Homo sapiens: one gene and its partners. The protein of the gene in region 4 interacts with the protein of the main gene of each other region in a pairwise test. Each region holds a gene or a part of one and is shown on either strand. Other genes may lie near its edges. The genes, in order: FXR2, KRT40, KRTAP1-1 and C10orf62.

The links.
Region 1: the proteins of C10orf62 (region 4) and FXR2 interact in binary tests that used the Homo sapiens proteins (3 or more experiments, as listed by UniProt).
Region 2: the proteins of C10orf62 (region 4) and KRT40 interact in binary tests that used the Homo sapiens proteins (3 or more experiments, as listed by UniProt).
Region 3: the proteins of C10orf62 (region 4) and KRTAP1-1 interact in binary tests that used the Homo sapiens proteins (3 or more experiments, as listed by UniProt).

Annotation. Positions count from the first base shown.
Region 1 is NC_000017.11:7,590,725-7,599,876, forward strand, and holds the end of FXR2 (RNA-binding protein FXR2), read right to left. Parts: intron 5,271-9,152; coding exon 5,100-5,270; intron 4,034-5,099; coding exon 3,955-4,033; intron 3,624-3,954; coding exon 3,514-3,623; intron 3,281-3,513; coding exon 3,194-3,280; intron 2,902-3,193; coding exon 2,679-2,901; intron 2,458-2,678; coding exon 2,260-2,457; intron 2,171-2,259; coding exon 1,970-2,170; intron 1,876-1,969; coding exon 1,780-1,875; intron 1,631-1,779; coding exon 1,530-1,630; intron 1,434-1,529; coding exon of another isoform or gene 1,398-1,433; exon of another isoform or gene 1,342-1,397; intron 1,202-1,341; coding exon 1,106-1,201; 3' UTR 506-1,105; downstream 1-505. UniProt on the Homo sapiens protein: mRNA-binding protein that acts as a regulator of mRNAs translation and/or stability, and which is required for adult hippocampal neurogenesis. Specifically binds to AU-rich elements (AREs) in the 3'-UTR of target mRNAs.
Region 2 is NC_000017.11:40,975,063-40,981,326, forward strand, and holds the end of KRT40 (keratin, type I cytoskeletal 40), read right to left. Parts: exon of another isoform or gene 6,263-6,264; coding exon of another isoform or gene 6,239-6,262; exon of another isoform or gene 6,090-6,238; coding exon 5,928-6,089; exon of another isoform or gene 5,849-5,927; coding exon 5,723-5,848; exon of another isoform or gene 3,963-5,722; coding exon 3,742-3,962; intron 3,235-3,741; coding exon 3,135-3,234; 3' UTR 2,653-3,134; downstream 1-2,652. UniProt on the Homo sapiens protein: May play a role in late hair differentiation.
Region 3 is NC_000017.11:41,039,901-41,048,444, forward strand, and holds KRTAP1-1 (keratin-associated protein 1-1), read right to left. Parts: upstream 1,551-8,544; 5' UTR 1,498-1,550; coding exon 964-1,497; 3' UTR 641-963; downstream 1-640. Other genes in the region: KRTAP2-1 (keratin-associated protein 2-1), read right to left, coding at 6,981-7,367. UniProt on the Homo sapiens protein: In the hair cortex, hair keratin intermediate filaments are embedded in an interfilamentous matrix, consisting of hair keratin-associated proteins (KRTAP), which are essential for the formation of a rigid and resistant hair shaft through their extensive disulfide bond cross-linking with abundant cysteine residues of hair keratins.
Region 4 is NC_000010.11:97,584,956-97,591,434, reverse strand, and holds C10orf62 (uncharacterized protein C10orf62), read right to left. Parts: upstream 1,715-6,479; 5' UTR 1,538-1,714; coding exon 866-1,537; 3' UTR 501-865; downstream 1-500.

The DNA of each region.
Region 1 (9,152 bases), on a different chromosome or scaffold from region 4:
GCGCATGCCGGAGAAAAAGCCTGGAGCCAGAACAGAACACCACCAAGAAGGCCGGACCCCGGGCTCCAGAGGCTGCTGTGAGGGAACCCTGCTCCCCACTCTGCCCAACGGCCCAGCCCAAGCCCCAGGCCTCAGGTAATCGGATTAAGCAGCCTGCCTTGGCTCTCAGCTTCTACAGGAACAGCTCCAGCTCTGAGCAGCCCTGCCTAGCCTGTGCTGTGACTCAGGGTATAGGAGTGGCCCAACTCCCTCTACCAGCAAACTTGGGGGAGGGGAGAAGCAACAAGGCACAAGCCCCCCTCCTCTGAACCAGGAGGGAGAACCTGGGCCTGGGGAGTTTAGGAATGTCAGGAATTCCCAGAAGTAAGACCATCTTTGGGACAAGAGACAATGAAGAGAAGTCAGATGTGGAGGAACAGAAAACAAGAGCCAGGGGCCAGGGCAGGTCAGTCCTAGAGAAACAAATGGACCAAACTGGGGACAAAGAAGGCACAGGAGCCAGACAGCCATTTGGATTTTTTTATTCTCTTTTTAAATACTGTACAGTGAAAAATAAATACGCCTTCTCATCCACCAGACAAGGTTGGTCCCCTCCCCAGGGGGACCTTGTCACCCCCCTTCATACACACCCCTGGTTCTACTCCAAAACCTTCCCCGTGCCTCCCACCCACTTATCTCTTACTATCCCCGTCTTCCACAGTGATGAGGCCCCAGAAATGGGGGGTACAGGATGGGAGGAGGGATAGCAGGGGAGGCCCCCTGAACGGTCAAATCTGGGTGGGTCGAGGAGCACCCCCCACCAACAGGTGGAGAATGGGGGTGTTCAGAGAGAGATTGGGGCATTAGAGGATAAAGGCACATCCAGTCTGATGGGGAAGGAGAGAGGCTCCCCTTACCCTGGGGGTAGGGTGGACAAGAGGGAGGGGGTATGACCCTGTTACACACCCCTCCACTAGCTCCTGGAGGTTGGGGGGTACCCAAGCTGCTGTGCCACCCCCCTCCCCCCTAGATAAGAGCAGCTCCAGCGCAGGTCAGTTGGGCCTGTGAGGGCCATGGTGTTGGGCAGCAAGCGAGATGGAGAAGGGAGGGGTGCAGGTTGGAGGTTTTATGAAACCCCATTCACCATACTACCCAACTCCAAGGGGGCGGAGAGCTCCCCATTCTCCGAGGGGCCCTTAGGAAGCTTGCTGACAGAGTCACCCTGAGGGGAAAGTGGGAAAGAAAACAGAAAAGCAAGAAGCGGTGAGTAGAAATTCAGGTGGGAGACATTCCCTACCATCCAAGCCCTCCTGGCATTTGGTGATCCAGAGGTTGGTTCCCTGATCTCATGATCCAGTCTCTCTTACTTGGGATCCAGAAAATGTGAACCACACTTTCTTCTCTATCCTATTCAAAGTTTACACTGGTCTAAACTCCATCAGACACAGCTGCCTCTGCAATTCAGTAGGAGATTTGTGAAATTTTTTGTGCCCCCTGCCCCAGAGTAACAACAAAAAAGGGATGGGGTAAAGCACATCTTGCCTGCCTACCTTCTGTCCTGAAAGAGAGTCTTCTGAGGGTTTAGTGCGTTCCAGGGGTGGCCTCTGGCGGCTCTGAGACTCTGCTCGTGAGATATAGTCAGCCACAGTCACTGGGGAAGGCAGGAGATTAAGACTTTCAGATGGAATTCTGGTAGCCAGCCTAAGACACCCACTGAACCCGAACCCCTGATTTTCACAGGGGTGAGCATCCCATTCTCTCAGCTCTGAGGAAGGATTCTGGTGTCCAGAGTTGGCTGACCTGGCTGGCGGTCTCCACTGATAGAGCCATCAGTCCGATTACCACGGTTACGGCGGCGGCGGCTGCGATTACGACGTTGAGGTCTTGATTCATCTTCTGTAGGGTAGGAAAAAACCAGAGTCACACATCCAACCTCCCACCCTCGATTCCTACCCATCTCTAACTTTCCAGACCCCAGGCACACCCTCACCCAGGCCATTCTCTGTCATGTTGGGCCCATCTGATTCCAGGCCTCCATCCATGACGGTCCTGTCTTCATCAGTGCGGCGGCGGCGGGAGCGGCGGCGCCTGGCACTTGCTGGGGGGGGTTCCCCAGGTTCTGAATCAACCGGGGGCTCTGGTTCAGACGTGTCCAATAGGCTGTAGGGATTACTGTCTGGATCCTTCAGCACTGGTCAGAGGAAGAAGAGGAGGAGTTGGCAGTCAGGTGCCCATCATCTTTCCTTTTGGCCCATATTCATGAACCCAGCTGTCTGGTACCTGAGCTAATAGATGAAGAATTGTATCTCGAAGTGGGCCGGGGGGCAGGTGGGGGTCCCCTACCCCGGCCCCCAGTCGGCCGCCTCCGGCTTTCTTCCCCTCGGGTTGGGGGATCCCTGTCGCCAGGCCCAGCTCGGTTGGGCTCCTCTCTCTTCTCTGACTCAGTCTCTGAAGCTGTAGACACATCTGAGCTGGGGCCTGAAGAACACAATGGGATTTATTCACGGCCATTCATCCCACCTCAGGATCCATCACATCCCCCAAACTGGAAGAATTCTCCTTCTCACTCACAAGCCTCCCAGCCAATCAATCACTTTTTCATCATCTCCATTCCAGATTTCCCCAAACTTCCATCCAGACCTCTGCCTCTACCCACAAGCCCTGCCACTCCTTGCCTCCTGTTCCCATAACTGTCTCACCATAGGCAGGACCGCCTGTCCTCCGGCCACGGCCACGGCCCCCATAGCTGCCCCCATAGGTTCGAGTCGCATGGAGGGAGGAGGAGGAGCTCTCATCAGTGCTATATCCAGCCTTGTCGCTGCCACCGCTGCCCCGCCCACTCCCAGGAGGGCGAAAGCCCAGCCCAATCTGCCGAAGCTGCTCATCAATTTGTAGCCTCTCCAAGCGAAGCTGCTCTACCTCCTGGTTGGGTAAAAGATGGAAGAAGGGGAAGGAGAAATAAGATCAGTGCCTTGCTTCATGCTTCTGCACCCTGACTGTCCCTCTATATCTAACCTCTCAGGAATGCAGGGAGAAGGAAGACACTGGCTAAACAAGGAAAATTCTGGGACCCAACCCTATAGCCCCAAATTTCCACAGATGTTTTCTGTTCTACACGGAGAGACAAACAGAGAACCAAAATCCCTGAGCTGACCCCCACAGCAGTCTTAGTTCCCTTTTCACACCCAGCATTTTTCTCTCCCGGCCTGGGTACCTGCAGGTAGGAGAGGTGATACTCCAGCAAAGCCTGGGCATTGCTGATGTTCTCTCGGGTGCCAACAAAAATGAAGGGAACCATTCCCTAGAGAACAGAGAGCAGAAACGATGGATCAGAAAGGAAAATGAAATGGAAGGATTAACGCCGCCCAGTCTCCTAGGGGAGCCTGCCCAGTGGGATCATTCTGGGCTCTAAATCTACTAGTGTTAAACAACTTTCCGTACTCCACCCTCTCAAAGAACAATCCCAGCCCTCAGAGGACAATCCCATTTACTTCTGGAAACCAATCTCTATGCCCACTTGCCCCGTACCCATACCTCCTCCCTGGGGTTCTTCTTGTCATTATCACCTTCCACTCGAACCCTCACCACACCAGATTTATCCACAATCTCCTGGATCACTTTCCCGTTCTTTCCAATCACTTTGCCTGGAATAGGTAAATGAGGAATTCAGCCTTTTATTTTTTTTAAGGAAATAAGAATAAAGCTGATACACCGTCTTCCAGCCTCATTTTCTTTATATGGATTCCATTTACTTCATTCTCCTGCTTCTAGGTTTCTGATGTGTTTTTACAGGACAAAATGTTACAATCCCTAGAAATTTATTCTTTCATTTTTATCACTCCCATTACAGACTGTTTCTCTGTCCTTGTGAAACTGGGAGTCCACAGGGAGGTGCCAATCCTGGATAAAAGCTCAGAATCACTGTAGAGAATCTTGATTCTGACCTCTAACTGTATATACACACCACCAACTCACCAACCAGGTTCCTGGGCACTTGCACTGAGTCCTCAGAAAACTCAAGGTAGCTTCGGGCCTGTCGGCAAGCCTCGGGAGTCTAAAGGAAGAACAGCAGGGAGTTGTTACTAAAACAGAAGACCAGCTGGATGTGGTGGCTCACGCCTGTAATCCCAGCACTTTGGGAGGCTGGAGGCAGGTGGATAAATTGAGCTCAAGAGTTCAAGACTAGCCTGGGCAATATGGTGAAACGCCATCTCTACTAAAAATACAAAAATCAAAATACAAAAATACTAAAATACTAAAAATACAAAATTGGTGGCTCACGTCTCTAATCCCAGCTACTCCGGAGGCTGAGGCAGGAGATTTCTTGAACCCAGGAGGCAGAGGTTGCAATAAGCTGAGATTGTGCCACTGCACTCTAGCCCGGGCAACAGAGTGAGTTAGACTCCATCTCATAAAAAAAAAAAATTAAACAAATAAATAACTTAAAAAAAAAAACAGAGGACCTTGGCCAGGCACAGCGGCTCACACCCATAATCTCAACAGTTTCGGAGGCTAAGAAGGGAGGATTGCTTGAGGCTAGGAGTTAACAACCAGCTTGGGCAACAGAGATCTGGTCTATTTTTTTGATTTTTTGGTCTCACTCTATTGACTATGTTGCCCAGGTTGGTTCAGTGGCACCATCATGGTGTACTGCAGCCTTGACTTTCCAGGCTCAAGTGATCCTCCTGCCTCCGCCTCCCAAGTAGCCAAGTAGCTGGGGCCACAGATGCATGCCACCACGCTCAGTTAACGTTTTTTGGTTTTTGGTTTTTTTGGGGGGTAAAGACAGGGTCTCTCTATGTTGTCCAGGTTGTTCTCCAACTCCCAGGCTCAAGTGATCCTCCCCTCTATCTTCCCATTTCAGCCTCCCAAGTACCTGCGACTACAGGTACGCACCACTACTTCCAGCTAATTTTTAAATTTTTGTAGAGATTGGGTCTCACTATGTTGCACAGGCTGGTCTCAAACTCCTAGGCTCAAGTGATCCTCTCACTTTGACCTCCGAAGGTGCTGGGATTACAGGTGTGAGCCACTGTGCCCAGTTTGAGGCTTATTTTCTACTTCGGCCTCTCTTCCCTCTATCCCCTAAGAGACCCAGAAGAAAGACATCCTTTGCTGACCTCCCCATAGATGCGGAAAGTGCAGGTCTCTTCACCCAACTCAATGGCGGTCACCCCAGGTACTTTTCGGGCCTGCTGGATGTTGGCACCGTGAGTCCCAATTGCCAGTCCCATCAGGTCCTCTCGCACTGTGAACTCCTCTTGGAAGGCTGCTGCCAACTGCTTGCTTGTCTGAAAGGAAAAGTCACTGTAGGAATCATGGTGGTAGAATCTCACAGTCCCAGGCACACGACCCTTTGCATAACTTAAATAAGGAAAACTGTGTGATATTAATAGAAAGCTAGAACCACTCTGGAGTCCGCGGACCACGAGGACCTGTGTGGAAAGGTCAGGAACTTTTTGTTTTTTCTTTGAGATGGCGTCTCGCTCTGTCGCCCAGGCTGGAGTGCAGTGGCGCGATCTCAGCTCACTGCAACCTCCGCCTCTCGACTTCAAGTGATTCTCATGCCTCGGCCTCCTGAGTAGCTACGACTACAGGTGTCCACCACCATGCCTGGCTAATTTCTGTATTTTTAGTAGAGACAAGGTTTCACCATGTTGGCCAGGCTGGTCTCAAACTCCTGACCTCAGGTGATCCGCCCGCCTCAGCCTCCCAAAGTGCTGGGATTACCGGCATAAGCCACCACGCCCGGCCAAGGTCAGGAACTTTTAATTCCACTCCTTCCAAATACCAGTGGTTTGTGGGGGAGGAAAGGTAAAGAGGGCAGAGTTTGGACTGGGACACACCGAAGTTCTGGATTTGGCCCTAACAGTATCTGTCCCTAAGAGTATCTATCTGTGTGATCTTAAACAAAACATACTCTGCCTCTTGTGTCATCTGCTAAGTGATTATATCCAACTTATCTTATTCTCAAGACTAGCAAGAGGATTAGACAAGGCTGGTGTGAAAGTACTTCTCACAAGGTACATGCAAGTGTAAGGAACTCTTACCTTAATCAAACAAATATCAACTCATCCCCAAATAAAACTCAACAACTTAAGTAAAAAGTGAGGGGTAGGCTGTGCGCGGTGGCTCACGCCTGTAATTCCAGCACTGTGGGAGGCTGAGGCAGGTGGATCACAAGGTCAGGAGATCAAGACCATCCTGCCAACATAGTGAAACCCCATCTCTATTAAAAATACAAAAATTAGCTGGCCTTGGTGGGGTGTGCCTATAATCCCAGCTGCTTGGGAGGCTGAGGCAGGAGAATTGCTTGAACCAGGGAGTTGGAGGTTACAGTGAGCCGAGGTCATGCCACTGCACTCCAGCCTGGTGACAGAGCAAAACTCTGTCTCAAAAAAAAGTGAGGGGTTAAGAAAAACAGAAAACATGCCTCTAGAACACCAGGCTTTCACTTCATTTCTCAATCAGTCCTTAGAGGAACCCCTGGGTTCAGGGGCAGGAAGACAGGAAAGGTTTTAGAGGAGTGAATCCCATGTTGTAAGCACCAAATAGAAACAATACCTGAAAGGAGACATTCCTAGATTGAAATACACTACTTCCCACTTCCAAGTTGGATAGGACTGAATTATACCAAGGATTTATACCAGGCAAGAAGAGAAAGTTGGAAAAATAAACTAAGTTGAGTGTTCAAAATCACTACATTAGGAGGGGAGGGGAAGAGATCTACAATGACCTATAAGCGTCTTCTAGATAAGCTTGCAGAACAGCTGGGTTTTCTTTTTTTTTTTTCTTTTTTTTGAGATGGGGTCTGTCACCCAGGCTAGAGTGCAGTGGCATGATCTCTGCTCACTGCAACTTCTGCCTCCCTTTTTTTGTATTTTTAGTAGAGAAGGGGTTTCACCATGCTGGCCAGACTGGTCTCAAACTCCTAACCTCAGGCAATCCACCTGCCTCGGCTTCCCAAAGTGCTGGGATTGCAGGCGTGAGCCGCTGCACCCGGCCCCTTTCCGGTTTTTAGAGGCTTCACTACTAGGCATGACTGATTAAATCACTGATCCTCAGTGATTGCCTTAACCTTTGGCCCCATTCCCCTCCCAGGAAGTTGGTGGGGGTGAGGCTGAAAGTTCCAACCCTCTAATCATGAAGCCACCTAGAGGGGCTAGCCATGAATCAACTCATCAGCACACAAAAACACACATCACTGGAGATTCCAAGGATTTTAGAAGTTGAATGCCAGGAGCCTGGTCAGGAGACCAAATATGTATCTCTCAGTATCACAGAGCCTGTCAGTCCTACTGGTTTTACTCGTAAAATTTATCCTACATAAAACTACTCTCTCTCTCTTCCTTTAGCACTCCAGTTCAAGTTTCTCACCTGGACTACTGTGCTCTGTTCCTGCTTCCATTCTTGCCCCCCTTTCCATCTGTCATTGAAACAGGAGTTTAAAACAGAAGGCACTTTCGGCCGGGCACAGTGGCTCTCGCCTGTAATCCCAGCACTTTGGGAGGCCGAGGTGGGTGGATCACGAGGTCAGGAGATCAAGACCATCCTGGCTAACACGGTGAAACCCCATCTCTACTAAAAAAAAATACAAAAAAATCAGCCGGGCGTGGTGGCAGGCGCCTGTAGTCCCAGCTTCTCGTGAGGCTGAGGCAGGAGAATGGCGTGAACTTGGGAGGTGGAGCTTGCAGTGAGCCGAGATCACGCCAATGCACTCCAGCCTGGGTGACAGAGCGAGACTCCGTCTCAAAAACAAAACAAAACAAAACAAAACAAAAAACCAGAAGGCACTGTTAACTCAATGGCTTCTCAGTATACGCACAATAAAATCCCCCCTCCTCAGCCTACCGTACATGTCTTACATGATCTACTCTCTGACCGAATTTTGTATCGGTCTCCCTTTGCTCACTCTGCGCTAACTACACAAGCTGCAGTGAGCTGAGATCGCACTACTGCACTCCAGCCTGGACGACAGAATGAGACTCCGTCTCAAAAAATTAAAAAACAACAACAAAAATTAGGCCGGGTGCAATGGGTCATGTCTATAATCCCAGCACTTTGGGAGGCCAAGGCAAGTGGATCCCTTGAGGCCAGGGGTTCGCGACCAGCCTAGCCAACATGGTGAAACTCCGTCTCTACTAAAAATACTGAAATTAGGGCCAGGTATAGTGGCTCATGCCTGTAATCCCAGTACTTTGGGAGGCCAAGGCAGGTGGATCACCTGCGGTCGGGAGTTCAAAACCAGCCTGGGCAACATGGTGAAACACTAAAAAAGCAAAAATTATCCAGACGTGGGGGCGCGTGCCTATTATCCCAGCTACCTGGGAGGCCGAGGCACAAGAATCGCTTGAACCCAGGAGCGAGAGGTTGCAGGGAGCGGAGATTGTGCCATTGCACTCCAGCCTGGGTGACAGAGGGAAACTGTCTCCAAAAAAAAAAAAAAAATAGCCAGGTATGGTGGCATGCACCTGTAATCCCACCCACCCAAAGGCTGAGGTGAGAGGATCACTTGAGCTCGGGGGGTAGAGACTGCAGTGAGCTGAGATCGCACCACTACATACACTCCAGCCTGGATAACAGACTGAGACTCCATCTCAAAACAAAAAACAAAAACAAAAAATAAAGTTTGTATCATCTGAAGGTAATGGTGAATTTTTACCTGCCAGTGCCCTGAGCAGGATCCCTGAAGAAGTCAAAGATTATCATGACCCAGAAATTGCACAGGCACAGAAAAAAGCCTCCCAAAAAGATCAATTCCCTTGATAAATGGAAATGGTATTCAAACACACACACCCTATTCACTTAGAATAGTATAATACCAACGAAAGGGAATCTGACAATTATACGATGTCAGAATTCAAAAAGATCTCACAGAAATACTCTAGTCAGGCCAGGCGTGGTGGCTGACACCTGTAATCCCAACATTTTGGGAGGTCGAGGTGGGCGGATCACCTGAGGTCCATAGTTTGAGATCAGCCTGGCCAACATGGTGAAACCCCATCTCTACTAAAAAAGACAAAAATTAGCCAGGTGTGATGGCACACACCTGTAATCCCAGCTACTTGGGAGGCTGAGGCAGGAGAATCGCTTCAATCTGGGAGGTGGAGGTTGCAGTAAGCCAAGATAGCGCCACTGCGCTCTAGCCTGGGCGACAGAGACGCTATCTCAAA
Region 2 (6,264 bases), on a different chromosome or scaffold from region 4:
CGCCTGGCCGACAGTTTTTTTTTTTCTTTTAGCATTTGAAAACTATTGTATTACTTCATATTGGCTTCCATGGTTTATGGTGACATACCTGCCATCAATTAAATTGTTTTCTTCTATTGGTAAGGTGTCATTTCTCTCTCACTGCTTTCATAATTTTTTTTGTCTTTAGCTTTCAAAAGTTTGAATATGATATTTCCTGGTGTAGATTTCTTAGGGTTTATCATTTTTGGGGTTTGCTTGGTTTCTGGAATCTGTAGGTTTTTGTCTTTTGCCATATTTGTAAATTTTCAGTGTTTATTCCTTCAAATGTTTTTGGCTTCACTTTTTCTCCTCCCTTACAGAACTCCACTGACATGAATGTTAGATCGTTTGATATAGCCCCAAAATTCCCTGAGACTCTATCTTTTTAACACTATTTTTTTTCCGTTTTTCAGGTCGGATGATGTCTATTATTGTATCATCAAATTCCCTGATGTTTTCCTCTCTGGCCTGCATTCTGCTGTTAAGCCCATCTCCATTGAGGTTTCTATTTTGGTTCTATGGTATGTTTCAGTTCTGAAATTTCCACTGGAGTCTTTCCATCTTCTTCATTGAGTCTTCTCTATTTTTGCATTTGTTGTAAGAGTTTATTGAAGCATTGCTTACTGAAGCATTTTTATGATGACTATTTAAAAATCATTGTCAATAAGTAAAATAGTGTAACTGGATGTTTGTAACACCAAAGATACATGCTTGAGGGGATGGACACCCCATTCTCCATGTGATTATTACACATTGCATGCCTGTGTCAAATCATCTCATGTACCCCATAAATATATACATCTATGTACCCAGAAAAATAACAAATAAAAAGTTAAAAACCCTTGTCAGTTAATTCTAACGTCTTTTTCCTCTTGATGTTTGAATTTGTTGATCATCTTTTTTCCTGTAAGTTGAGATTTTATGATCCTTGGTATAAAGAGCAATTGTTGATTGAAACCTGGACATTGGGGCATTATGTTATGAGATTCAGGATACTGTTTAATCTTATGTTCTAGCAGGTCTCCTCTGACACTGTTTTGGCAGGGGAAGGGGGACACTGCTTCATTCCTACCAGGTGGGAGTAGAAATACAGGTTCTCTCCACTTTGCCCCTATTGACACCCAAGGGGAGAGCCCCCCTCATCACTGCTGGGAGGGAGGATTTTAGACTCCTTACCTGGCCTCTGCTGATACCACCCTGGCCAGGAGGGGCAGGAATATCTTGTTATTGCTCCCATGCAGCTTCCACTGACACTGCATGGGGGTGGCCTTGGTACTGCTGGAGGAGGGAAAGAGTTCTGACTGTCCAGTAGGACTCTTGTGACACTAACCCCAGAGGAGAAAAGAAGAGCCTCACTGCAGCCTGTAGAGTTAAGTCCAGGCTTCCCGTGTGGTCTCCACTGATACCATGATGGTGGGACAGGGAGTGCTTCCATGTCTCATAGTAGGAATGAAAGTCCTGGATCTCTCACTTAGCCTTCCCTGATTCCACCCCAGTGGTGAAGTTTGAGTGCCTTATTACAGCCTGGGAAGGATAGAAGTCTGGACTCCCCACCTGGCCTTTCCTTGTGTGGATATGGGTGGGTGAAATGATATTTTCTGTGGTGTTTGGCTGAGTTGAGTGGTTATTGTCTAAAGGTTTTCCGCCTTTCTAGGCTGCCTCTTTTCTGGTTCTTTAAGCAGAGCAAGCTCTTTCTGTTTGTTTGTTTGTTTGTTTTGTCTGCACCTGTTGGTGTTTCTGGTTGTTGGTTTCTCCAGCTCCCCCTCTGGGATATATGAGATAAAAAGCTAATCCAGGGAGCTCACCACAGTGTCACTCCTGGAGTCTCAACATCTTTAGGTGGTTTGGCTTCTTCTTCTACCTTTCAGAGTCCTCTTATGTTTATTTGATATGTAATTTCCAGGGTTTTTAGGAGGAGGAATATGGAAATATACATCATTCTGGAAGTTCTCTACCTTGTTTTTTAAATATATGAGAATAATTATTCTTATAACCTAAATGTCCAATAACAGATCAATGTACCTTATGGTACATTATGCAACCAGTAAAATGATGGCTACAGGCTGGGTGCAGTGGCTCACACCTGTAATCCCAGCACTTTGGGAGGCTGAAGCTGGTGGATCACAAGGTCAAGAGATTGAGACCATCCTGGCTAACACGGTGAAACCCTGTCTCTACTAAAAAAAAAAAAAAATTAGCCTGGTGTGGTGGCAGACACCTGTAGTCCCAGCTACTTGGGAGGCTGAGGCAGGAGAATCGCTTGAACCCAGGAGGCAGAGGTTGCAGTGAGCCCAGATAGTGTGACTACACTCCAGCCTGGGTGACACAGCAAGACTCTGTCTCAAAAAAAAAATAAAAAATAAAAAAAGTGATGGCTACAATACAATCTTATGTTTTTATTAGAATTAAAAATGCTTAGATGACATAAATGAAAGAAAGTTTACACAAGTGTGTGCATATGTTAGTATGATTATAGCTGTGTGGAAAAATCTATTATAAGAAAGAAAACTGGAAGAAAGTACCCCAAAATATTGACTATGGCTGTTTGGAAGATGAAATCATAAGTGACCTTTTCCCTTTTAATGAGCCAAATTTAAAAAAAGAGAATCTAGTACTTTTATAATCAAAAAATACATTTTATCATATTTTATTCCTAATATTTTTCCTCAGAAAGATACACACAACTATTTTCTAAGATATATGACATTTCTCATGGGTTCATTAATTTATTTGTATTTGAGGAGTTAAAAAATATTTTCAGCCTGGGTTTATGTACATTGAAACTATGGTTATGGGTTTAGATGATTTCCTTGCCATAAAATGAATATTCTATCAACAGTAATCAGCCATAGAGCTATATTTACCACGCTAAAGGAATAAAACACGTTTTATTTGGAGATGAGCAAGAATGCTTTATGGGCTTCCAGTATACCACAAATAAGCCGGAAGGAGAGGAAATAGTAAAGCAGAAAGACTGAGGATACCTGGAGGGCAATTCCAGGATATGAGAGCCTCCTGGATTTGTGCTTCCGGTTTGGATGTCCCTGGTTGAAGCCCCATCTCCTTTCTAGGATGCTGCTGGCTTTGATTCCTCTACCTGCTGTCCTTAACATTCACAAGCAGCAGTTTTCAACAGTGCAGATGACATAGGCTGAGCATGGCTCACAAGTGTTGCTCGAGGTGCATGTGGTCGAACATGGGCTACAGGAAAGCCTGGGGAAAAATCGATTTTCAACCAAGATTAACAAGGGAATGTTGATAAAATGGCAACTCAGAAAAACCGTGTCAAAATTTGCCCTACAAATTATGTTCTGAAAAAAACTCTGCACAATAGCATTGACTGAAGCCTGTTTCTTCTCTGCACCCAGAATTGCCACTTCATGTTCACTGTAGCAGTGGCAGTTGAATAGTATTTTATATTTTTTCTTGATTTTGCAAATGTTATCTTAGGCCTATTCCTGATTTTCCTTTAGTGGAAAACAGGAACAAAGGGAGATGCCAGCATGAAATGTTACACTAATAATTAATCTGCCTTTAGAATATTTTAAAAATATCTCTAGTGTCATGTTCTTAACCTCAGCCACTTTTCAGCACTTTTTTAAGAAGATCCCTAAACACACTGGGGAGGTCTGAACTTGTCCAGACTTTGGGGAAACAGGATTCTTTTACATCAGCCTCTTTGTGACTCTGGGGGATTTCATGAGTAACTGTGGAACTTGCCTGCTGTCCTCGCTGTCCAGCAGGCCCCAGTACGTGTTGATCTCACCCTCCAGCCGGGCCTTCACGTCCAGGAGCACCTGGTACTCCTGGTTCTGTCGCTCCAGGTCGCAGCGGATCTCGGCCAGCTGGTTCTCCAGGTTATCGATCAGACACTGAATTTGGGCCAGCTGGGAGCTGTACTGGGCCTCGGTTTCTGCCACGGTGCATTCCAGAGATTCTGTCTGCGGGAGGAAACATTGTCCAAAGGACCATGAAGTGCAGTCTCTCGGGCCAGAGTGCCTACTTTCAAATTCCTGCTTACCCTTTTCTAGCTATGTGACCACTGGCAAATTATTTAGCTTCTGTGAGTCTCAGTTTTATTCTCTGTATAGTGGAGAATACAAAGTATCTGTTTCATTAGACGGTTGTGAAGATTAAGAGTTAATATGCGGGCTGGGCGCGGTGGCTCAGGCCTGTAATCCCAGCACTTTGGGAGGCCGAGGCGGGCGGATCACAAGGTCAGAAGATCGAGACCATCCTGGCTAACACGGTGAAACCCCGTCTCTACTAAAAATATAAAAAATTAGCTGGGTACGGTGGTGGACGCCTGTAGTCCCAGCTACTCAGGAGAATGGTGTGAACCCGGGAGGCAAAGCTTGCAGTAAGTCAAGATCATGCCATTGCACTCCAGCCTGGGCGACAGAGGGAGACTCCGTCCAAAAAAAAAAAAAAAGAGTTAATGTGCGTAAAGCATTTAGAACAGTGCCAGCCATACTGCCACTGTTCTACGTGTCAACTATCACTACCACCACTATGACTACAGCAATACATGACATATTTGTGAAGCTTAAGGACTATCCACAACATATGAGAGGAAAGATTGAGTTTGGGCTCTTGGCAGGGAGGGGTAGTATAGTGCTATTAAGAGAAGAGGCTCTGGATACCAGAGGCTGGGACTGGCATATGTGTGGTAAGGGGATGAAGAGAGGTTGGTTAATGGGTGCAAACATACAGTTAGACAGAAAGAATATGTTTTCATGTTGGACAGCAGAGAAGTGTGACTACAGTTAACAACAATACACTGTGCATTTCAAAATAGCTAGATGGGAGGACTTGAAATGCTCCCAACACATAGAAATGATAAATACTTGAGGTGATGGATGCTCTAAATATCCTGACTTGATCATTACACATTCTATGCATGTAACAAAATATCACATCTACGTAAAAAAAATTTACGCATATTATATATCAATAAAAATAAATTTAAAAAGAGAGAGAGAAGAGACTCTGGGATTCAACTGGCTGAACTCAGCTTCCAAGTTTGCCTCTTAGAATTGCATCCTTTGCAAGTTACTTAATCTGAGTCTCAGTTTTCCTTATCTGTGTCATGGGATAAAGGTATCTATCCGGTAAAGTTACTGTGAGCCTTAAATCAGCATAGTGCCTCTCACAGGATGAATGCTCAGCTATTGTTCTTCTAGGTGTTCTCCGCAGGGCCTAATGACATGCACACAGTGGTGCTTGACCAGAACTGGTTCATGTCATCTTGAACGCATGGTGTTCCTGTTGCTTGAGTGGGGGGTGGTGCAGTGAAGGATAAGGTTGAAGTGTAGATCCTGGGAAACTGTAGGATGAAATGTTTGAAAATGATTCTTTGTTTTAGATATAACAGTGAGCCTGGAAAACTGGCCTGAATCAAATGAGAATTAAAACCTGCCAGAATGCTTAAGCGACCATGGCCCGGAGGTTTCTCTCCAGCTCTGCTTCTCCCTCCCTGTCTCTGGAGGCTGCTGCAGCATCAGACTCAAGCCCAGGAGTGAAGGTAAGGCATCTTAGAGGACAAGCTGTGGACCTGTCACTTCTGCTTCTATTAATAGCTGGGTAAACGGCAGTACTCGGGAAAGGCAAGGAAATGTGATCCTCGGATATGGAAGAGGGCTTAACATCTCAGGGCCTGACTTATCAGTGACACAACGGACACTGCCTTTGCCTCACGCACCAGGCTTTGCTGTGCTTGGAGCTCAATTTCCAGAGCACTGGCTGTGCGTTTCAGTTCCAAGATCTCCATCTGGCAGCCCTGCAGCTGCTCCGCGCTGGACAGTTGCTGCTGATTCAGCTCTTCTGTCTGAAACACAGACACCATTAGAGAATTCAAAAAAGGCAGAAGTCTGTAAGCCTGACATTTTTTCAATCTGGGTACTGACCTGAACAGCCAACCATTCTTCAGCTTCTCTGCGATTGTTGGCAAGCACCGTTTCACACTGACAGCGCATCTCATCCAGGACCCTGTTGAGGTCAAGGGTGGGGGCAGTGTCCAGCTCCACACTGAGGCGGTCGCCAAGCTGTTCACGAAGCAAGTTGACTTCCTGAAAGTGGGATGGTGTAAAGAATGTCACAGAATGGTGGGGAAAAATCCATTTGACATCCAATGGCATTCTACTTCTGTTTTTTGGAGCAGTGGGTAAAAGTGTGAGATTTTGATTCAGATTGCCTGGGCTGAATCTCTTTTCACCACTTAGAAGGGCCTCAGTTTCTTCGTCT
Region 3 (8,544 bases), on a different chromosome or scaffold from region 4:
CCAAGAACAGTGGGGGAAGATTCTTGCCTTGAGGAGTAAAAGGAGCAGGTGAAAAGAGGTGGGGAGAAGGCCAGAGAGAGAGAGAGAGCAAGAGCAAGTGAGTGAGCGAGAGCGAGAGAGAGAGAGATTCTGTTTTCTGAGGCCTGCTTCTGAAGTGTAAAGTGCCCTAACATCAATAAAAGGGCTATGGGAGTTATGAGCCTAGACCTTGAATGAAATGTGTATATTCGTTACATGCTATTACTCTGTAATCTTGTGTTTGTATTCTTTCACAATTTTTATTATGCTTTTGTATATCTTGGAGGACAGAAATAATTGTATACAACCTCATATATGAATGGATGAATGAATAGATTTGGCAAAACCTCAAGAAGCTGAATCAATCTGTTGGAATACCTAGCCCACCACTTTGCACATGAGAGGACCTTAGGAAACAGTTCCTAAATGTTGTCAAGTTCCTTTAATCATATGTCTTGGCTGCAAAATATTGGACCATTTAATGGTAAAACAAAGGAAAATTGCTGTTAAATATCATCATTAAAAGAGCAAAAGTACAGAAAAACCATAGTGTCATGTCATGTTGATATTTTGAAAAATCCCAGTACCCCAATATTGTTAATAAATTCCAAAGCAAAGAAAGTTCAAACAACAACTTCATCATTGAAGAGATGAAAACTTTTATTAAATTTAAGTCCCAATAACTGTTGAAATATTTCAGGTGATATTTATAGTAAAATAGTATCTAACTCTTTTCACATTGTAGGACTTTGGCTGACAACCAGGTCTAGGAAAAATTTTTGGTCTTCCATTGTAAATGAATTTACTTCCTAGGGAATTTATGTGGCTGTGTGATGAGAGGTTGCAAGCCCAGTTATAGGTACTGGAGTTCAGAAGATTGTTAGGATTCTAATTTGGCTAGTTTTAAGGTGCCATCTTATCAGGATCCCCAGCAGAAGGAGGTTTTCAACAAGTGGGCTCAGAGCAGTAGCAGCAGCAGACTGGGCGGCAACAGGACTGTCCACAGTAGGATGGGCGGCAGCAGGAGGCCTCGGCGTGGTGCAGCTGGCAGCAGGATGGGGGTGTGCAGCTCACCACGCAGCAGGGGGGCAGGCAGGTACCCTCCACACGGCAGTCTGGGCGGCACCACCTGATACGGGTGCTCACAGCTCCACTGCTGCCCTCCTGGCCATAGCCAATGCCACCACCAATGCCACAGCCAGTTCCGCAGGAGCTGGTCTGGTAGCAGCTTGGCTGGCAGCAGCTAGTTTCACAGCAGCTTGGCTGGCAGCAGCTAGAGTCACAAGTCCCACCGGTTGAGAAGCTAGGAAATCCACAGAAGCTGGTCTGGCAGCAGCTTGGCTGGCAGCAGCTGGTCTCACAGCAGCGTGGCTGGCAGGAGCTGGTCTCACAGCAGCTTGGCTGGCAGCAGCTGGAGCCGCAGGTCCCACTGGTGGAGCAGCTGGGAAATCCACAGAAGCTGGTCTGACAGCAGGCCATGGTGTCAGGAGTTGATCTGAAGGTTGGGTTGCTTGGAGGAGTTTCTGAATTATGGCTGCCTATTCCACTGCCGGCTTTTTATAAGTCTGGGCCAATTCCTCTATTTGTGGCGAGCAACATTTTTATCTTGTTACTCTTTAAACCAGCCTTTCTAGGGCCCTCTGATGGTTCAAATGCTGAATTGTTTTAAATATATCTCAAAATTGATTTTTCCTTATTGCTCAGCTAATACTCACCAAATGTGTTTGTCCTTGGTAAAAATGTTAACATTTTGTTTACAAACAATGGTATAATTTCCACTTGAGCTTCAGCTTCAGGTTTGCACTTGTGGGTATATCACCTGACAAAGTGACTCTCACCCATAAGGTGATGTGATTTTGGAGATCATATTCACCAAACCTCAGGTCTCCAGAAAAGAATTATTAATCATGATTGCCCTTATGTAAGACTGCTTTGTATTTTTTAGACTAATAAGATTATCCTCTCTCGATATAATCTTATTAGCCAGATAGAAACTCTGATAAACTCTATATTCATAGAAATTCATAGATTTTTCCCTGAAATGGAATCTTTCCAATTTCTGTGATATCTCCTGAACTTCACATTCATATTTTAGGAAACATTGATCACTCAGGAGGATATATAAAACAAAACCTGTTCAATTTCAATGTCTCTTAAAAAAGAGGCTAAAATTCATATTCAGTAATTGGAAAAAATTGCAAAATATTTTAACAAAATTTACACTTCTCTATGAAAGACAAAAATCACTTGTATATGGATTATCTGGCATATAATTTTTCAAAGGCAGAATTTAATTTTAATTTATGTCATTTCAAGTTACTAAACCATGTGTCCTGTGAAAAGATATTAGACCAAAGAGCATGACAACTGAATTTAGGAAAGGGAATAAATCAAAGAAAAAGCAAGAGTTAGAAAATACTTTTATCTGCTTTATAAGGCAGGTTAGAAAATGGGTGACCAAATATAGTTCAAGAGGTGTAGTATAATAAATGCAAAGAGATTAAGAAAAATTTCAGCAAAATAAAAGTTAAAACAATTCCTGGTCATTGCCAGAAGAAAGAATGTAATTTTCACTGGGAGTTTAGGGTTACGTGAGATAAATGAAAAAAGGCTGGTCAAAAACATATTATTTCTACTTGGGGTAGGTTTATTTCTCCCTTCCAATCATGAATAGAAACACATAGTTAGCTTTTTATGAGGTGGTGGCATTTGTTTGTACAGGAATGGGGTTATATCACAATGTGATTCATGCCAGCTTCAGTAAAGATGTTCACGTCATATGGTAACCATGACTGTAGGTATGAAGTTGAAAATGGTTATATGTAATCAATGAATGTTGGAGATCAAAAATGTAGTAAATTATCTTGTTCCACCACTTAATTTTATAGGTGTAGAAACTGACATCATTCTTATTATAAATAGCACATATTTATTAACTTCTACTATGCCCAGAGCACTAAAGGCTTATACAGAAAGCAAGATCCCATCTATTTGTTTTGTATCTTGCTCTAGTATAAAAATCAGTGTAGTAGCAATAGGAGGGATTAATCAAGGAAAAGAGTTGAGTATAGAACCATTTAGTCTCAAAGTTCTAAATGGGAACATTGGTGATGTGCTATGGAGCACTTTTCATTTTCACTTAACATCGGCTGATGTTAGAATACTCTTGAGTCTTGAAGAGGTTAAGTGGCTTGTTCCATTCACACAGTACACAACCAGAAGAGCTGGGTATAAAATTCCTATCACTTGTTCCTAGACCAGTTCTTTTTATTTTATACCATGCTGCTTTTCAGAATCAATTAATGTTAGTAAGGCTCTTTGTCTTTGTCTTTTTTTCTAAAAAAAAAAGGTATTTTGTAATAGCACAAGAATAGAAATATTAGATGGTAGAGAGATGGCACTATGGAGTAGTGATTTTAAATACACAATAAATAAGTACAAATATGTTAAAGTTCTTTTAAGTATCTGGACCAGAGACTTATAATTGGAATAAGTCACATTTGCCTCCTAGTTGTTTTTTGTTTCCCACATTCAACTAAGTTAATATACTTTCTGGGTTTCTACATCTGCTATACTCATTGTGTCTTCTTTATTCCATGGGTATTATCTTAGTTGAGCTCTTATTGTAATCACTTGACCAAGGCAATATCTTCCTGATTAGTTTCTGTATAGTTCTGTACGACTCATTTCTCTGGCCTTTGACCTCTGTCTTTATAAGGAGCTATCATGAGAATTGTCCCAATGCCCTGCTCTTGTTATGCCATTTTCCTGCCCCAAAGCTTTCAACAACTCCTTACTGCTTATTGCATTAAGGGTGTACTCCGTTGGCTAGTATTCAAAGCATACAAATTTTCCAAATCTTTCTTTCATTATCACTCTATATATATCCAGTGCCCCCAGCCAAACCGTACTCTGAACAACCCTATGGTTCCCCTCCCTCCACACCTTTGCTCATACTATTTCTATTGCTGAGAATGCCATCCCTGTGATCTGGACACCACAATCTGAACCTATATAAAATGTTAGCTTCTCTTTTCAATCTTTCTTATTTTCCCCAACCAACAGTGACTTCTGTGTTGACACCACACAGTGTTGTACTTTTATTTTTTAATATTCTAGTTTTTAGATGAATTATAGGTGAATATGACTCATGTCTCTAGAATCTTTTTGAAGATGGGAACATTTTTAATTCAATTTTACTTTCTATTTTATACCATATAGCCTGTGACTTGCATATGGTAGGCAAGCAGCACATTTAGACCCTATTTCTTAACTCATTTAAAAACAACCCAAAATGGATTAAATACTTAAATATAAGACCACATATAATAAAACAACTAGAAGAAAACCCACAGGAAACATTTTATGACACTTGTCTGGGCAATGGTTTTTTCTTGGGGGGATAAGACCTCAAAGGCACAGGCAACAAAAGTGAAAGTAAACAAATGGGATTATATAAAATTAAAACCTTCTGCACAGCAAAGGAAACAATCAAATCAGCAGAGTGAAGAGACAGCCTAGAGAATGGGAGAAAATATTTTCTTTTTTGGTACTTTTTTTTTTATTATACTTTTAAGTTCTAGGGTACATGTGCACAACGTGCAGGTTTGTTACATATGTATACGTGTGCCATGTTGGTGTGCTGCACCCATTAACTCATCATTTACATTAGGTATATCTCCTAATGCTATCCCTCCCCCCTCCCCCCACCACACAACAGTCCCCGGTGTGTGATGTTCCCCCTCCTGTGTCCAAGTGTTCTCATTGTTCAATTCCCACCTATGAGTGAGAACATGCGGTGTTTGGTTTTCTGTCCTTGTGATAGTTTGCTGAGAATGATGGTTTCCAGCTTCATCCATGTCCCTACAAAGGACATGAACTCATCATTTTTTATGGCTGCATAGTATTCCATGTATATGTGCCACATTTTCTTAATCCAATCTATCATTGATGGACATTTGGGTTGGTTCCAAGTCTTTGCTATTGTGAATAGTGCTGCAATAAACATACATGTGCATGTATCTTTATAGCAGCATGATTTATAATCCTTTGGGTATATACCCAGTAATGGGATGGCTGGGTCAAATGGTATTTCTAGTTCTAGATCCCTGAGGAATCGCCACACTGTCTTCCACAATGGTTGAACTAGTTTACAGTCCCACCAACAGTGTAAAAGTGTTCCTATTTCTCCACATCCTCTCCAGCACCTGTTGTTTCCTGACTTTTTAATGATCACCATTCTAACTGGTGTGAGATGGTATCTCATTGTGGTTTTGATTTGCATTTCTCTGATGGCCAGTGATGATGAGCATTTTTTCATGTGTCTGTTGGCTGCATAAATGTCTTCTTTTGAGAAGTGTCTGTTCATATCCTTCACCCACTTATTGATGGGGTTGTTTGTTTTTTTCTTGTAAATTTGTTTGAGTTCTTTGTAGATTCTGGATATTAGCCCTTTGTCAGATGAGTAGATTGCAAAAATTTGGGAGAAAATATTTTCAAACTATGCATCTGACCAGGGGTTAATATCTAGAATATATAAGGAACTTGAACAACTCAACAGTGAATAATAATAAAAAATCCAATTAAAAATAGGTAAAAGACCTGAATAGATATTTCACAAAAGAAAACATACAAATTTCCAACACATATATGAAGAAGTGCTCAGCATCACTAATCATCAGGAAATGCAAATCAAAACCGCAATGAGATACCATATCACCACAATTAGAATGGCTATTATCAAAAATACAAAAAGATAACAAATGCTGGTGTGGATGTGGAAAAAAGGGAACTCATACAAGGTTAGAGGGAATGTAAAGTAGTATAGCCATTATGGAAAACAGTATGGAGGGTTCCCCAAAAATTAAAAATAGGACGATCATGTGATCCAGGAATCCCACTACTGAGTATATACGCAAAGGAAATGAAATCAGTATGTTGAGGAGATTTCTGCACTTCCATGTTTATTGCAGCACGATTCACAACAGCCAACATATGAAAACAATCTAAGTGTTCATCAATGGATGAATGGATAAAGAAAATGTGACACACACTCACACCCAAACACACAATGAAATACTATCAGCCATGAAAAAGAATGAAATACTGTCATGTGCAGCAACATGGATGAACCTGGGGGACATTATGTTAAGTGAAATTAACCAGGCACAGAAAGACAAATAGCACATTCACTCACTCCTATGTGAAATCTAAAGAAGTTGATCTCATAGAAGTAGAGAGTAGAATAGTGACTACCAGAGGCTGGGGAGGGTGAGAGGAGGGGAGGATAGGCAGAGATTGGTCTACAGGTACAAAGTTACAGGTAGATAGGAGGGATAAGTTTTGGTATTCTAATGTACAGTAGGGTGACTGTGGTTAGTAATATTTTATCATATATTTCAAAATAGCGATCAGAGAATATTTTAAATGATCTTACCATGAAGAAATGATAAATGTATGAGGTGACGAATATGCTAAACACCCTGACTTGATTATTACACAACGTATACATGTATGGAAACATTACATTGCACCCCATAAATATGTACAATTATGTGTCAGTTTTTTTAATTAAAAAATTAATTTAATACAAAATATTAGAATGAGTAAATAAAACCAAATCTTTTTGCAAGGCCAAAGAACAGATATTTATTAGAAAATAAACATGCCACGAAATCTTAAGAAGAAGGAAATTGCTTCTTTTACAGACTTCAGAATGGCCCAGGTCTTAATAGATGAGCCCAGTGCTCGGTTCCCTGCTTGGTTGATGTGGGGTTTTGTGGGCTCAGGGCAGGAGGTTTGTTAAAGTAGAGAAATGGGAGTGTGACTTTTTCAGAAGGTGAGTTACGCGTTCCGGGCAGTCAGTGCACTGCTCAGCAGGAGGAGGTCCTGCAGGTGGTGCTGCAAGGGGTCGGCTGGCCGCAGGGGGACTGCACAGACACAGGCTGGCAGCAGGTGGTGGCTCAGCAGGAGGAGGTCCTGCAGGTGGTGCTGCAAGGGGTCGGCTGGCCGCAGGGGGGCCGGCAGCAGGGGGACTGCACAGACACAGGCTGGCAGCAGGTGGTGGCCCAGCAGCAGGGCCTGCACACCACAGCCGTGCACGACGAGGGGCAGCAGGTGATGGGGCGGCAGCAGCCTTCCTGCAGGGAGCAGGGGTCGCAGCACACCGGGCGGCGGCAGGGCTCGCAGATGGGGCGCGTGCAGCGGGGCACGCAGGTCACGGGGCGGCACACGGTGGTCTGGCAGGTCACGGGGCGGCAGCAGCAGGGGTCGCGGCAGCAGCAGGGCTGGCAGCAGCCTCCCCCGTAGCTCAGGGAGGAGAAGGTGGAGCCGCAGCAGGAGCCGGTCATGGTGGTGTCTGAGGCTGGTGTGGGTTGGGCTGTGGAGAGGAGCTGGATGTTCTCAGGTGTGAATGTCCTCCTCCCCCTCTGGGCCCTTTATATACCCTGGCCGGGTGCAGGTGACCCTTTTCGTTTACCTTTTGGCCAATTAAGTAGAATTTTGTTTTGACTAATGGTTGCTTGTGACACACTCATTATCTCACTAAAGAGCTCTTGTTTTATCTCTAAGTATGGATGTACTCACATTGGGTGAAAATCTAAGAACTCATCGTCATTTGAGGTGATAGTAGCTCTTGATGCTTATTTTGAGTAGATAACACTGGATCAAATCTGGACAAAACGGTCTAAAAAAACTTCAGTTTTTAAAAGAAATTAAAAACATAGAGAAGTACATAGAACATTGAGTAGAGCCTATCCTGACCCCAATAGGGGACTCAAGTCCTTGGAAGCACCTACATGTGAAACGTGAATCACACGAGTGTTAGACAAGCCCTCCCACGTAGTCTGCTTGGGAATACGTTTGATTATCACTTGATATAGTGGGATACATAGGCCTTGAATAGGATAGCAGCTCATAGAGTTGTACAGGACAGACAAAAATTTTTGCAAACCACTAAGTGTTGGAATAAAACCTCCAAGACTGCCTTGCATGTTTTCTTTTCTCTAGTTCAGGTTCTGTGCAACTCTGGTCTTTCTGTCATAAGATGCTGATTTTTATCTCTGAAACATGTCATTTTTTAGCGTTGCCTTTCTTGTGCATGTAATGAAGAATTCTGTAATGGGAAATTTTTCTGAATATACCTTGTTGGCCGGGCGCAGTGGCTCATGCCTGTAATCCCAACACCTGGGGAGGCCAAGGCAGGTGGATCACCTGAGCTCAGGAGTTCAAGACCACCCTGGGCAACATGGTGAAACCTCAACTCTAATAAAATACAAAAAATTAGCTGGGTGTGGTGGCAGTGCCTGTAGTCCCAGCTGTGCCGGAGGCTGGGGAACGAGAATCACTTGAGCCCCAAAGGCGGAGGTTGCAGTGAGCCGAGATCATGCCATTGCACTCCAGCTTGGGCTACAGAGTGAGACTCCATCTCAAAAAAGAAATATGCATATATACTTTGACATAGGTGCTCTGATTAGCAAGTGACAAGAAAGGGGTTTTCAACCAACATTGCACACATATCCAGAACAC
Region 4 (6,479 bases):
AATTAAATTAAATTAAATTAAGTTAAACAAACAAGAAGAAAGTGTTGTGCTCACTCAGTAGCTGTAGACTTAGGTGGTGGGGAGGTACTAACATGGATCCCAAGGGGCCCCAGGAAGCAGGTGGGGCTGGTGAGAGAACTGCCTTGTAGGATGCCACATGACTTGAGAGCAAAGATAGCACCAAGACGACAGGGGCCCTCATTCCCACCTGGCTTAGTTACTCTCCTCTGAAAGCCTGTTTCTCCTCCAAGCCCAATACCTGGCTGCTCCCCTCTTCCCTGGCAACATCAGATTGGGGGTGTTGAGACGTCTAGAGGTACCCCTTTTCCAGAACCTGAGACCAGGGTAGCTGTTTTATGGAGCTTTAAATGAGGCCCAGTGAAAAGGCCCCAGGTCGGGGGCCTTTTCTCCACTCCACTCCAGAGGACTGCTGGAGAGGGAGCCCCCTCCCTCCATCCCTGCCAGACCTTAGGCTGCCCACAGAGCCCCTGGACTCAGAGTGAAGGCACACAAAGCTTTATTGGCTCCGTTCCAGGCAATGACATCAGTGTGGGGCTCTTGCCTGCTCCCATCTGTCTTCTCTTGGTGGGTCTTCAGGGGCCTCAGGGTCTATCTCACCTGCGCTGTGTCCTCCCAGCTCTCCCTCCAACAGGGGCCATCTTCTGTGGCAGACCCCACTCATGGAGTTTAAAGAGCCCATAATCCCCGTGAGGAGCCTAAGAAAGTAGGGATTTGGGCACAGCATCTCACCCTGGCCTGCATAGATGGCCCCATAGGAGAGAAAACAGACGTGTGTGTGAGCCAGCCTTGCTGGGGGCAGGGGCGTCTCCATCCATGGTTAGGTGGCTTCCAAGAAGTCACAGATCTAGTGTCTGCGATTAGGCAGGCTGTGGCTCTGGTGGCTTGGGTGGCCATGGTGACTGTGGTGACTGTGGCCATAGAAGGTGTGTGTGTGATTGGCACCAGCTATGGTGTTTTCCCGCTGGGTGAGGAAATTCTTTTGCAGCTTCATCTCTACCTCCTCGAGGGCCCTCAGCTCCTCCTGGTTGATGTCCTTGGACTCTAGGTGACCTGAGTGCTGGTAAGCTATGGCCCGCTGCAGCATGGAGTGAGCCAGGTGCCGCCCCTGGGTGTCAATCTCCTTGGTGCAGGCAGCCACAGCGGCCCACGTGGCCTCATCAGTGGATGGGGCTTTTCCAGACTCCTGGTGGATCTCTTGGATCACTGAGGGCCCAGATGTCTTCTGCCTGCTGGTGAAGGATTCCCGGTGCAGAGCGGAGCCCACTTCTCCGTGCCTCGTGGTGAAGGTCTCTATGTGAACCGTGGAGCTGACCTCTTCACTCCCACTCTCAGTCTGGGTAGCATTGCCACTAGCGCTGGCATTGTTGTCGAGGGCCAGCTTCTCTTCGGAAAGGCGGCTAAAGTGGGATTTAATCCAGCTTTCATTCTTTGCTTTATGGGATTCTGGTGACTTGTCCTTGTCTGATGGACACTCAGAGGTTTCCTTTCTTCTCCTCTTTCTCTGAACCCACAGCATGAGACCTCCACCTCCTAGCAAGAGGGCAGTCCCCAGCACCACCTTGCATGATGGCTGCTGGATGAGCTCCAAGAAGGTCTCCAGGACCCTACACCAGGCAGGCAGAGCTAAGAGCACGCTGGGTGATCTCTGGTGGTATGATTCATGCTTGAAAGGGCAGGCTCCCCAAGGATGTCTGACAGGCAGGCCCCCTGCTGCACCCTCCCTAGGTGCCCCCCACCACCTCAACAATGAACCCCATTGTGAGGAAGGCAGTTGCGGGTGGGGTGGGGAGAGTGGGGTGGGGAGAGGCCGCAGCATCCCTCATGTCTAGCCTGGCAGGCATTGCCTGAGGCCTGGGTCCTGTCTCCTACCCTGACAGCTGTCCCCAGGCTCAGTGAAAGGGCTGCTTCTCCAATTCTGAGTCCTTCTGCCTTCTGCTTGGAATCCATTCTACAACTTAGGCCTTTGTATCTTCCAGTCTTTGGTTTCTCTCTCTCCCCATCTGGTGGCCCCCAGGGGGCAAAGTATGCTGGGTCAGGCTGGCCATGACAGAATGATCCCCTTGACTGGGCTGGTATCCATTCCTAGCCATCTGAGACCAGTGCACCTCCATCCAGTGCCCATGTCTGCTGCCAGCCTGGCATATTCCATCCTCATTTGCAGCCCCTCGCCTCACTACAGGGCAGAGTTCAGAGGGAAAAGAACCCAGGAAGGAGCTCATTCTGGAGTAACTAACATGAGGTCACAATGGGCTGAGGGTGGAGAGGCAAGCAGTGGGCTGAGAAGGCAGAGTGGACAGGAGACTTCATCGGGTCTAGATCCCTGGGGCCACTCCGGGATGGTAGCTGCTACCTCTTGCCTTAGTGAGGCACCTACAAACCCAGAATTTGCCCCCCCATAAATAGGCATGGTTCGGGTTGTGAGCAGGTGGGCTGGCTGGCCAGGCTTTCCATAGGTGCAGACAACTAAAAGCCTAATTAATCTCCAAGGCCTCTCAGGGTATAAACAGGCCTGGGCCACTGTATTTTTTTTTCCCCTCAAAAGCATCTAGCCCATTTAAAAAAAAATAAGAAATGCCAAAATGGGGTTGTAAACATTGTGATGCTTTAAACAAAATATTTTCTTTAACAGAGTAATGGTTTTAATATATACAAAATATTATATCTTTGCAAGAAAGCATGGTCCACTCTATGTATGGAAGGAATAGGACACAAGTGTTTTATGGAGAACCTCATCTTCCCAGTCCTGCTGGACTAGTTCTGTGGTTGGCTAACCTCATTTGGAAATAACAATTCAAAGTCCATCTTTGAGGGTGTTTATGGGTGTGAGTTCAGGGCCATAGAGCCCTTCTGTAATGACCCCTTCCTCTAGTCTCTGGTCATAATTTTTATTTAAAAAGAATACTCTTGGCTGGGCGCTGTGGCTCACGCCTGTAATCCCAACACTTTGGGAGGCCGAGGCGGACGATCACGAGGTCAGGAGATTGAGACCATCCTGGCTAACACGGTGAAACCCCATCTCTACTAAAAATACACACACACACACAAAAAATTAGCCGTGCATGGTGGTGGGAGCCTGTAGTCCCAGCTACTCAGGAGGCTGAGGCAGGAAAATGGCGTGAACCTGGAAGGCAGAGCTTGCAGTAAGCCGAGATCGTGCCACTGCACTGCAGCCTGGGAGACAGAGCAAGACTCCATCACAAAAAAAAAAAAAAAAGAAAGAAAAAACAAAAAGAATACTCTCTATTCAAATAATCAGTACAAATTAGCAATGCTAAAAAGATTTTTTAAAAAGAGCTACACGGGGCCGGGCATGGTGGCTCATGCCTGTAATCCCAGCATTTTGGGAGGCAGAGGCAGGCAGATCACTTGAGCTCAGGAATTCGAGATCAGCCTGGGCAACACGGCAAAATCCCATCTCTACTAAAAATACAAAAAATTAGCCGGGTATAGTGGTGTGCACCTTTGGTCCCAGCTACTCGGGAGGCTGAGATGGGCAGATTGCTTTAGTCCCAGGAGGCAGAGGTTGCAGTGAGCCGAGATCGTGCCACTGCAGTCCAGCCTGGGTGGCAGACTGAGACCCCATCTTAAAAATAAATAAATAAATAAGAGGCCCAGCGCGGTGGCTCACGCCTGTAATCCCAGCACTTTGGGAGGCCGAGGCCGGCGGACCGTGAGGTCAGGAGTTCAAGACCAGCTTGGCCAACATGGTGAAACCCCATCTCTACTAAAAATACAAAAATTAGCCAGGCGTGGTGGCAGGCACCTGTAATCCCAGCTACTCAGGAGGCTGAGGCATGAGAATCGCTTGAACCCAGGAAGCGGAGGTTTCAGTGAGGCAAATCATGCCACTGCACTCCAGCCTGAGCGACAGAGCAAGACTCTGTCTCAAAAAAAAAAGCTACACAGTTTCAGGGAGTGCTTTCCAGAAGAATCTCTAACTCTTCACTGATTCATCCAGGGCAGCTTTCCACCTCCTATTTATTTGTTTTAATAGAGACAGGGTCTCACTATGTTGGCCAGGCTGGTCTCCAACTCCTGGTCTCAAGAGATCCTCCTGCCTTGGCCTCCCAAAGTGCTGGGATTACAGGAGTAAGCCACTGTGCCTGGCCCTCATCTCCTCTTCAGAGGACCTTTAACTGGCTGCAGGAGGCCCTTACAATGTGATACGTTCCCTCCTCAGCCTGAGTGTTGGGCTGCAAAGTCTACCTCAGGGGCCAGGACAGGGCAAGAGAAACACAGATTTCAGAGCTAAAGTTGTTTGTGTCTTCCTTCCTGGGCATTTTGGCTGCACCCTGGAAGCAGGGAAGGGACCCTCTATCTCTGTGTTTTCTGTGACAGTGCCTTGGGAGGATTATATTGACCCTGTGGCTAGAAGCCTGAAGGCTCAGTTCCTATTCTAAAATGAGGACTGGATTTGAAAGGTTAAGTGGTTTCCCCAAGGTCTCTGTTAACTGGCAGAAGTGGCAGGATTCTTGCCCAGGTCCTCTAACTCAAGATGCTGGGCTCTTCCTACCACACCCCGCTGGCTCTCTGGTGTGTGGGTGAGTGATCAGATGGGAGCTGGAGCCTGCATAGGTTGCGAGGGAGACAGACAAGTGGGTATGTGCAGCCCACAGCCTGCTAAATCCACGGAAGCCTGTGCTCCTGGGCACCCCATGCCCTCTGCAAGAGTGGGTGGGTGGCCCAGAAGGGAGGGTCCAGAGAAGAGTCTGGGGGTCTCTGTGGATTCTCTGGGTGTCAGGCAAACACCAGATGCAAAGTCCACCCTCCCCACCCTGAACTAGAGCATCCTTGAACCTTGAAGCTGAAGTAAGGTCTTCACTTAGAGGCTCAAAATGCTTCTCACTTCAAGAGAACCAGGACCTCACCAAACCTCCAGGCCCCACGAGCCAAGCACCAGCAGAAACCTAACAGTTGTGCCCTGCTCAACGTGGCCCTCCACAGGGCATTCATTGTCCCCAAGGAAGGGGCACATTCCCTCAGTACTGAGCTATGAATGATCAACGTGTCCATCAGGCCAGGGGTCACAGTCACAAAGCAGCTTTGCTGCAATGCCAATCACACTGTCATTTTAATCATTATTACCATTGGAATCAGTACCTTCCAATGTATATTACTCCACAATTTATAGCACGATTTCACTTGCATTCTCTCAGATTTTTTTGTCCAACCATCCCATAATATGAGCATTATCACTCCCATGTGTCCGATAGGGACAGCAATCATCCCACACTAAGTCAGTGCCAGAGATGTGATTTGATTTTTTTTTTTTTTTTTGAGATGGAGTCTTGCTCTGTCGCCCGGGCTAGAGTGCAATGGTATGATCTCAGCTCACTGCAATCTCTGCCTCCCGGGTTCAAGCGATTCTCCTGCCTCAGTCTCCCGAGTAGCTGGGATTACAGGCACACACCACCACGCCCAGCTAATTTTTGCATTTTTAGTAGAGACGGGGTTTCACTATGTTGGCCAGGCTGGTCTTGAACTCCTGACCTCATGATCCCTCCGCCTCGGCCTCCCAAAGTGTTGGGATTACAGGCGCTCACTCCAGAGCTGTGATTTGAAACCAGAGTCCACAGTCTACACGATACTGCCTCAATAGCAGCCACAACAAAGCTAGTGCTGACCAGACACTCCGTTGAAATAGTGTGGCCTAGCAGCTCCAAAGGGTTTATAATGAGAGTCAGCGAGGGAGTAAAATGGAGCATGGGCCATGCAGTCAGACGAGGTGCAAACCTCAGCTCAGCTATGTGTTAGCCGAATGACCTTGGGCAGTGACCATGTCACTCTGAGGCCCAGATTCCCATCTGTGGGATGGTCCTACAGAGAGCACTGCCTCAGGGGATTGTGCAGTAAGGAATGGGGATGGGCGGAGCAGGGCAGGCAGAATTTGACATTTTCTTCTACCTTCATTTATTGTGCCTGGGACTCTGTTACATGTTGATTGTTGCAAATATCATCTGGTCCCTAACCTCAGAGTTGGGGAGACCCATGTGTAAAGAGAGATGGGGTCACAGGAGCCACAACAGGAGTCACAGGAGCCAAGGGGTCACAGGAGAACTAATTCTGGCAAGGAGGCTTTGTCCAGAAGAGAATGTACAAACAAACTTTGGAGGGAACTGGGACTGTGGCTGGGCTGCCACGTGACCCCAGCCACATGCCTTCACATCTGCACCAAGTGACAAGGTTGACAAGGACTTTCACGCCCATTATCCAGTCCAACCTCAGAATCACTCTGGGAGCTACAAAGGCACTTTAACAGTTTACAGCTGGGTAAACTGAAGCAGGTGAGGTTTAGCTTAAGGTTACAGGCCAGCGTGGAGCTTCCTGCCTGTCTCCTGACTCCAGACCAGTCTCCCCTGTTCCTCTCCCATAATAAAATGACCCACTGAGTACCAGACTATCCCTGGACAGCTTGACAGAGCCTGTGTACCCTCCCTTGGTCTCTGGCTAAAGGGCCA